3 separate regions of the Homo sapiens genome follow, and regions 1 and 3 are each linked to region 2. Evidence: fine-mapped expression QTL. A gene starts in region 2. Each other region holds a variant in brackets. All regions are shown on one strand. Distances are between the middles of the regions.

Evidence for each region. PIP is the estimated chance that this variant, and not a neighbour inherited with it, causes the effect. A credible set is the group of variants that fine-mapping cannot tell apart.
Region 1: its variant is the best candidate, but not a certain one, in a credible set for the expression of PPP1R3B in thyroid (GTEx, PIP 0.80).
Region 3: its variant is the best candidate, but not a certain one, in a credible set for the expression of PPP1R3B in whole blood (INTERVAL, PIP 0.66).

What each region holds. Positions count from the first base shown.
Region 1 is chr8:9,080,714-9,083,560 of GRCh38, forward strand. It overlaps a transcript of ERI1 not described here. Among named protein-coding and RNA genes, the nearest start is that of SNORD3I, 24 kb to the left of the region's middle. The variant T/C (reference allele first, on the strand shown) is at 1,150.
Region 2 is chr8:9,149,223-9,151,722 of GRCh38, forward strand. PPP1R3B (protein phosphatase 1 regulatory subunit 3B) reads right to left here and starts at 1,436. Exons shown (of 2, transcript NM_024607.4): 1 at 1,341-1,436. RefSeq lists enhancers at 836-1,784, 1,831-2,070 and silencers at 1,421-1,690, 2,191-2,440.
Region 3 is chr8:9,074,598-9,077,444 of GRCh38, forward strand. It overlaps a transcript of ERI1 not described here. Among named protein-coding and RNA genes, the nearest start is that of SNORD3I, 17 kb to the left of the region's middle. The variant A/C (reference allele first, on the strand shown) is at 1,556.

The DNA of each region.
Region 1 (2,847 bases), 68 kb before region 2:
TGGACCTTGGCCACTTCTTCATTTGCCCCTCCCCCAAGGCACCACTCTCTCGGCTCCTGCAGGAACAAGCATTTAGTGCAGATATCAGCTAAATGGGGGGTGGAGGGCAGCGGTGCAAAGAATGGGGCAGACAGCACAGCCCAGAATTGGCTACTACTTAAGATTTAATGCTATACTGAAATGTTCACTGACAAAATATGCTATCTGGATTTATTAGTCCAGTCTCACACTGCTATAAGGATACTACTTGAGACTGGGTAATTTATAAACAAAAAAGGTTTAATTGACTCACAGTTCCTCATGGCTGGGGAGGCCTCAGGAAACTTAACAATCATGGTGGAAGGTGAAGGGGAAGCAAGGCACGTCTTACATGGCAGCAGGTGAGAGAGAAAGCAGGGACAACTGTCATTTATAAAGACCATCAGATCTCTTGAGAACCCACTTACTATCATGAGAACAGCCTGAAGGAAACCACCCATGTGATCCAATCACCTCCCACCAGGACCCTCTGTTGACACATGGGGATTACAATTTGTGATGAGATTTGGGTGGGGACACAGAGCCAAACAATATCACTGGAGATTCTTTCAAGATAATTAATGGGAGAAAGGTGAGTGAGTGGGGCATTTTAGATGAAACAAGATTGGCTGTGCATTAATAATTGTTGAAGCTGCCAAGGGTGCATTGAGGTTCTTTATACTAGTCTGGTTACTTTTGTACATACTTGAAATTTCCCACAATAAATTATTATTTTTTTAAAGTGGATGCTGGAATCCCTCAGGCATTGCCAGCTCAGCCATTTTCTCTCCGGCCATCCTTCCCCTGATATGTTCCCTGGGATCCCTCTTCCCCTCTGCTACCCATTTCTTCACTCTCTTTCTTTCTATGGCTCTCAGAATTCTTGTCTTCCCTACCTAAAGGGAACACTTAAAACAACTCCCATTTCTTCCTTTCCTCTTCTTCTTCTTTTGTTTTTGTTTTTTTTTGGTTTTTGTTTGTTTGTTTGTTTGTTTGTTTTAAGGAGCAGGGAGTTTAATAGGCAAGAAAGAAGGGGGAAGAAAGAAAGAAGCTCCCCTGTACAGAGACAAAGGGAGGGGTGCTCCAAAGCCAAGAGAGGGAACCCCCACAACTCCCATTTCTTATGAAAAA[T/C]AAGCAATTTAATTATTCTATGTCTAGACTTCTCATTAGCCTGCACTGGAAGACCAAATAAACCCATTAATATTGTTTTTCTGAGCAAAAGTTGTTCTCTCTGTATGAAGAATTCTGCCTTCATCTTAGTCCATCTGGACCCTGCAGCCAACTTTTAAAGTCACTGTGTCCCCCCACCCCATTAGAACTCTTAATATTTGTTTAACCTCAGAGTAGAATGGAAAGCATGAATGGCAGATATTTCTTACGACTCCAGGAAGTGAAGTTTAGTCTCTTTCTAGAACCTTCCATCAGGTGAGGTCCACTATGAGCCTGGTTTAGAGGGGAAGGAGAATGGAGACCCTCACAATGTCCTAAGACTCTTGTTTTCTTTGTTTTTCTTGTTTTCCTCTTACTCCTTTTACCAGAACTTCTGGCAAGTAACATGTTGACTCATGGTGTTTTATCACTTCCTTCCTCTGGCTCACGTCCAGTAGACATGCTAATGAGTTGCCAAGTCACCAGTAGGCAGGAAAAGACAGAAGGGCTTCTCTGCCATGGAAACCTGATCATCTGGTGTTAATATTCTGAAAATGACATTCACAAAATGAGAGTTAAGCTGGATGAGAAGGTATCTCCTGCTTTCTGGCATGAAATCATTCTTCCTTTGTTTCCTTTGAAGTCCATATCTGTGTAAAAGATGCAACAGCAGGAATGATCTGTACTTCTTGGGGGTCTTAATCTCTGCTGTGTTGAAAGGATATTGAAAGAAATGGATGAGGACCTACATCTGGGCTCCTCATCTTAGAAAGTAGGCACCTGCTTGGGAACACTTAGGCAAATGGATTCTCTCCTTCCCCATTTCCCTTCAGGGGCCAGAAGGTCGGACAGAAAGTCCACCCTTGAACCTATCTAACGTCTAGGAGAAAGTCTTTCTAGAAACATAGAGAAAGTGAATGATGAGATGCCCGAAGAGTCATAATAGCAAGAGTCCGGTCTAGTCAGTTCAGGGTGAACTAAGACATGGAATGCATTGGAGAAAAGTGGGGATGATGGAATATCCTAAATTTTGTAAGTCATAAAAGTAGGGTTACCAGATAAAATATGGAATATCTACCTTAGTGTGAACTTCAGGTAAACAACAAATAAATTTTTAACATAGGCATTTCCTCAATATTGCATGGGACATAAGTATACTAAAAAAATGTATTTGCTATTTATCTGAAATTTAATTTTAACTGGGGCCCTGCATTTTTTATTTGCTGATAACCCTAGAAAAGCCCAGCCAAACAGAGCTTTTATCGCTCCATTGAATGTAACAAGTGGTCACTGTGCATTTGTCAGGGGGAAGCAAAGTCAATGACTGTGGCAATAATCCCTTATCTTGATCTACTTTCAGTGAAAAATATTACTTCTTTTATTCCTTTTGGAATGTTGCTAAAACAATGGCTGTGCTCTGACGGTAACTTCCATCCAAAGATCTCTTATTACATGGTATCTGCCCCCTAAAGAAAGCATACCGTAACAAGAGAAAGCATACCATCTAGGGGTCAAAAATTGATGTTTATCTCCATTCTTTTTCTTTCTGCTTTCGATGCCTTATAAACTTTTATCTCTTTATTAAGGAAAAATTTAAACATATACCAAAGAAGAGAGAACAGTGCGATGAACCACCTTGTACTCAGTATCCAGCCTTAGCAATCATCAACTCATAATCAA
Region 2 (2,500 bases):
GGGCGTGGTGGCTCACGCCTGTAATCCCAGCACTTTGGGAGGCCGAGGCGGGCAGATCACGAGGTCAGGAGATCGACACCATCCTGGCTAACACGGTGAAACCCCGTCTCTACTAAAAATACAAATAAAAATTAGCTGGGCGTGGTGGCGGGCGCCTGTAGTCCCAGCTACTCAGGAGGCCGAGGCAGGAGAATGGCGTGAACCCGGGAGGCGGAGCTTACAATGAGCCAGAGATGGCGCCACTGCACTCCAGCCTGGGCGACAGAGCGACACTCCGTCTCAAAACAAACAAACAAAACCAAACAAACAAAAAAATCAGATGCACAAGCAACCCACCAGGAACACTGAAAGCTGCCGAACTGCATTCAGTAAACATTCACAACCAGGTTATAATTTTCATTTTTAAAGACATGGCCATCTACCTCCCTCCAACAATTCTGTGTTCCCTTCCAAAAGGTTTCACTGATCCAGCATGAAGAGAGTGCATGTCTTTCCCCTTTGTACTCAGACCATGGGGGCCTATTCACAGCCTTAAAGGCTCCTTGTACCCCTTGATCCTGTCCCCATCATCCAAAGCATCTTGGAGACTGACATTTGTGAATACAGTTGCATATTCTAGGAAAGAGGCAAGTTCAAATGACACAGCCCCTGCCGTCTAAAAACGTACGAGGGAAAACAGAGTACTAGGCTAAGAATGCCCGCACCTTGCTTTGCTACTTGAGCGAGTCACTCAGCTGCTCTGGGCTTGAGGTCCCCTCCAAGGTCCCTGCTGGCCCTGACATTGTATGTTGCGACCCACCCCTGGTGCCGCTTCTCTTCCCACTAACTTTTTTTCCTAAATACCTCAACTGTACTTTTGTGTAAGTCCTCCAGCTGTCTTCACTTTAGTTTTGGCTCCTGGACAACTCTGCCCAAGGAAACATTTCCTCCTCTCCTCCTCTTCCTCCCAGACCAAAGCTCTAATTGTCTCTTCTGCTGCACCCTGGGTCTCCCAGGCAGGCCCCCGCCACTCAGACCACAGGTTCCAACACCTTCCAAGTCTCCAAGTTCCCAAGTCCAGTCTTTCCTCTGTTTTCTCCTCTTTTTCAGAAAACAGTGCTCTGACAGGCCCCAAATCTTCCAGTAAGTCATTACCGGCCCCCACTCCCTCTTTTGCAGCTACTGTGCCTTCCACACCCCTTTTTCTGGATTCCAAAGAGACGCAGGAGCAGGCCAGTGCTCTCCAGGCTGGAGGATCCCACAAGTTACTCTCCGACTCTGTCCCCTCCGTCCAGTTTGACCAGGGCTGCACTCCGCCCCCAACCTCCCTACAAGCCTCCTTGGCCTCGCGCCGCACCCACCTTTTGGGCCGCGGAGAAGCCCCCTCCCCAGCTCGCTCGCCGCATCGGAGAGCCCGCAGGGTTGTGGCAAGCGCGACTACGTGAGCGTCGGTGTGTCCGGGAGGCAGGGCCTGGGCTGGGTTCCCGGAGATGTCGGCGGTGGGAGGAAGACGACGAGGAGGAGGAGCCCGTTATCGCACCCGGGCGGGGCCGGCAAAGGGGCAACCCCGGCCGGAGCAAGCAGCGCGACACCAGCACCCCCGCGCGGCCGCCTGGCCTCCGCCAGCCCGGGACGGGGATCGTGCTAGGTCCCGTCGCCCTCGGTGGCCTGAGAGCCTACCAAGTGTATTTCCTCGCGTTTTATAGGGAAAATAAGGCCCGGAGAGAGACGAAGCGGCTTGTCCTTAAGCTCCAAACCCCACTACCCAACTTTGGAGAAGTCTCCAGACCTCTCGGGACCCGGGGCTGGGAACTTGTGCTAGTTTCGAAGCCAGAACAACAGGTGGTAAAGGGATCAGCCGCCGCAGCCGCAGCTCCCGGGTCACGGTCGCAGCCGGGCCCAGCAGCGCGGTGGAGCACGTGGGCCCGGGAGGCGCTTCCCAGCTGCGGTCCCTGGATCGCCCTCTCCACGCTGAAGCAACAGCTCCCTGGGGCCAGCTACCTAGAGTGTTCCAGCCCCGGTGTGCCAGTGCAAGTCGCACGGTGAAAATGTAGGTGACAGGAACCCAAAGAGGTCCCCGCTGCACGCCCTCGCCTTGTTGTCCCCAGCCCTTCCCTCGGACTCGAGACTTGGGGAGCTACGTACCGGGTTCAGCTCATAAGTCCCGAGGGCAGACGCGCCAGCCCGCGGCAGCATACGCCCTGGGGGAACAGGGACAGCTGCCGTGACGGCAGGAGCTGGGCCCGGGCTCGGGTTCGCGCCCCCCGCGGGCGGCGAAGTCCGTCCGTGCACGAGAGCTGCGCGGTCACCTCCTCCCTCCAGCAGTCACCCGGGACTCGAGCTCCCCGCGGCCGCGCTGCCCCCTTTAACTTTCCTGCCAGCTCTCGGGACCCCGGGGTCCATCCCAGGCCCCCTGCCACGTGAACGCCCCCCGCAGCCAATGGGCGCGCCCGGGACTCCAGCCGCCGACCAATGGGCGCGCAGCCACGGCGCTGGGGAGCACCGCTTCGCCACGTGATCG
Region 3 (2,847 bases), 74 kb before region 2:
TGCCCAGCTAATTTTTTGTAGAGCTGAGGTCTCACTTTGTTGCCCAGGCTGGTCTCAAACTCCTGGACTCAAGTGATCCTCCCGTCTTGGGCTTCCAAAGTTGCTGGGGTTACAGGCGTGAGCCACTGCGCCCAGCCAGTACTTTATATTTATTGTGCCTGCATTTATATGGGAACTTCCTGTCATATTTCCTTTTTAAAAATTTCTAAATTCCTAAAACCTTAATTAATAGAGCACATCGTCCTCTTAGGTTGTGAGTCCTTCTAAGGGAAAAGCAGTATCTCCTGGTGTGGTCTGGTGTGGTCTTAATCTTCAGTGTCACAAGAGCAAGCCTGCCCCCACCAGCGCCACAGTGAGGTGACACAGAAGAGCGCCGGGCACCACGTGTTTACTTGCATTCCTCTGGTCCCGTGGAAGCCCATTATTCCTTTCCTGAATCGTATCTGAGCCAAAGGCCCTATATGGCCAAGATTCCCTGTTCGGTGATGAAATGCCAGCACATGACATTCTTTCTAATGAGTCACAGTCAATAAAAAATGTTTTCTAAATGAATCTGACTATGTCTCCACACCAAGCAACACAGAAGAAAAGTCTTATCAAACCAAAACATCTTATCAGCTGAGCCCAGACAGACCTTTCAGTTTTGCAAGCAAGGTGAAATGCGTTCCCACACAAAGCGAAAACCCAGTCTCTCCTTAGTTTTCCTTGGATACATGTGTTATATACTATGAGGAAATGAGGGAGACATGTATTGGGAAATATTTTCAGGGTTTGGAGACTGATGAGAGATTACCGAGGAGTTTGTGTACAATAATAAGAACACAGCTAAAGACATTCACTTTTGAGAGCCTCCATGTAAACATTAGGTTAATATCACATGCTGAACATGCCTTTTTTTTTTTTGCAATGCTTTATTTTCATTATGAACACGGTCTTTACATGGAATAGCACTGACCCTATTATTAGAAGTGGAAATCTATTAGCCATGCATTTTGTTGTTGTTGTTGCTTCTAAAGAGACTTACAGGGGGCTTAGGAAAGCCACAAAGAATCCCCACGGTGTGCACACATCAACCACAGACAGGTTAACCCTTCAGGCTCAGGGAAAATGAACATGAACTGAAGAAATAAAATGTAATGATCACCCAGAGGTTAACTATTAGGTTTACTATTACAGTGAAAGGGAAAAATAATCTTAAAAAATTTTTTATTTATTATTTTTTATAGAGACAAGGTCTTGCCATATGCCCAGGCTGGTTTTGAACTCTTGGGCTCAAGCCATCCTCCTGCCTCAGCCTCTCAAAGTGTTGCGATTACAGGGGTAAGTCACTGCACTTGGCTTTTTTTTGGAGACAGGGTCTCATTGTGTCACCCAGGCTGGAGTGCAGTGGCACAATCATGCAATCATGGCTCACTGCAGCCTCAATCTCCTGGGTCCAAGTGATCCTCCTGCCTCAGCCTCCCAAGTAGCTTGGGACTATGAGTGTATTCCTCCATGCCCAGCTAATTTTTGCTGCTGTTGTTGTTTTGTAGAGACGAGGGCTCACTTATTGCCC[A/C]AGCTGGTCTCAAACCCCTGGGCTCAAGTGGTCCTCCTACCTCGGCCTCCCAAAGTGTTGGGATTACAGGTGTGAGCCACTGTGCCCAGCCAGAAAAAAGAAAATCTGAAGGAAAAAATACAAGCAAGCCATGTATACACAGTTTTGTCCCCTAAAACTACGGTACAGAAGAGAGGGTATAAATTACAGGACTGGCATCCATAAAATTCCCTAAAGGAAAGATATACAACATCTAGGGTTCATCTGTAAGTCAAAGCAAACCCAAGTCAGAATGAGATGAAGGATTTAAATATGACCAAGGTGCCAACATGTAAATGATACCATAGACAAGTGAGAACTCATCTGGGCCTTGAACTTGACTTTCTCTCAAGTACTCCCAATAAAGTTACCCAGTAAGGAAAAGAGGTGGGTGGGGGATTAAGTTCTTATTGGCCCATCAAGAGTTTGTTTCTTTAAATTATCCATTGCCTTTGGTAATACCATGTGCTTCTCTTTCTGTGGGAGAAACTACATAATATCCAGAGAAGGGTAACTAGAATGGTGGAAAAGCCACTTCAGTGAGAAATGGCTGAAAAACTGGGCATATTTAACAAGAAGAGAAATCTGAATGAGGACAGGAGGGCTGCCAAGAATCTTTAGGGGGAAGCGGGGATGTGTGTTCTCCTGCAGTGCTGCAGAAGGCAGGGCTAGGACCACAGGAGAGCTGCCCCACCTTTGAAGGAGCTCTCTGGGGCAGAGTTGATGATTTAGAAGATAGAGATTTATTATAAGGCCACACCAGTGGAAGGTGAGGACATGGGAATAAAACCAAAGGTGAGGTAGAGATAGCTGTTAAAGAATGTGGACTTCACAGCTTTCGCTGCCTCCATGCTCTTCCCCTTCCAATGTACCTCATACGCATGCCAGTGTTACTTATCTGCTGGTCAGAATGTTTATTAGCTACCCATTACCTACTGAAGTATGCTGAAACTCCTTTTCCTGGTATTCAAAGCTTTCTGTGGTTTTACACTTCTTTTCCAGCCATATCATCAGATTAATAATTTTCTCATGTTCTCCAGTTCTTAAATGTGACATGCATTTCCCTGCCACATTCCTTCCCTGCTTAATTCCCTGCCTGTTGAAAACCTTCAGGGCCCACCAAAAATTCCACCTGTTTCATGAAACCTATGTAGAGGCAAAGGGAACTTTCCTTTTACCTTCTGAAGGTTCAATAATTTGAGTCCCTGGAAGAAACTGACAATAGACAGGTTAACAGGAGAAAAGGCATACAAATTTATCATGTGCCTATGTGC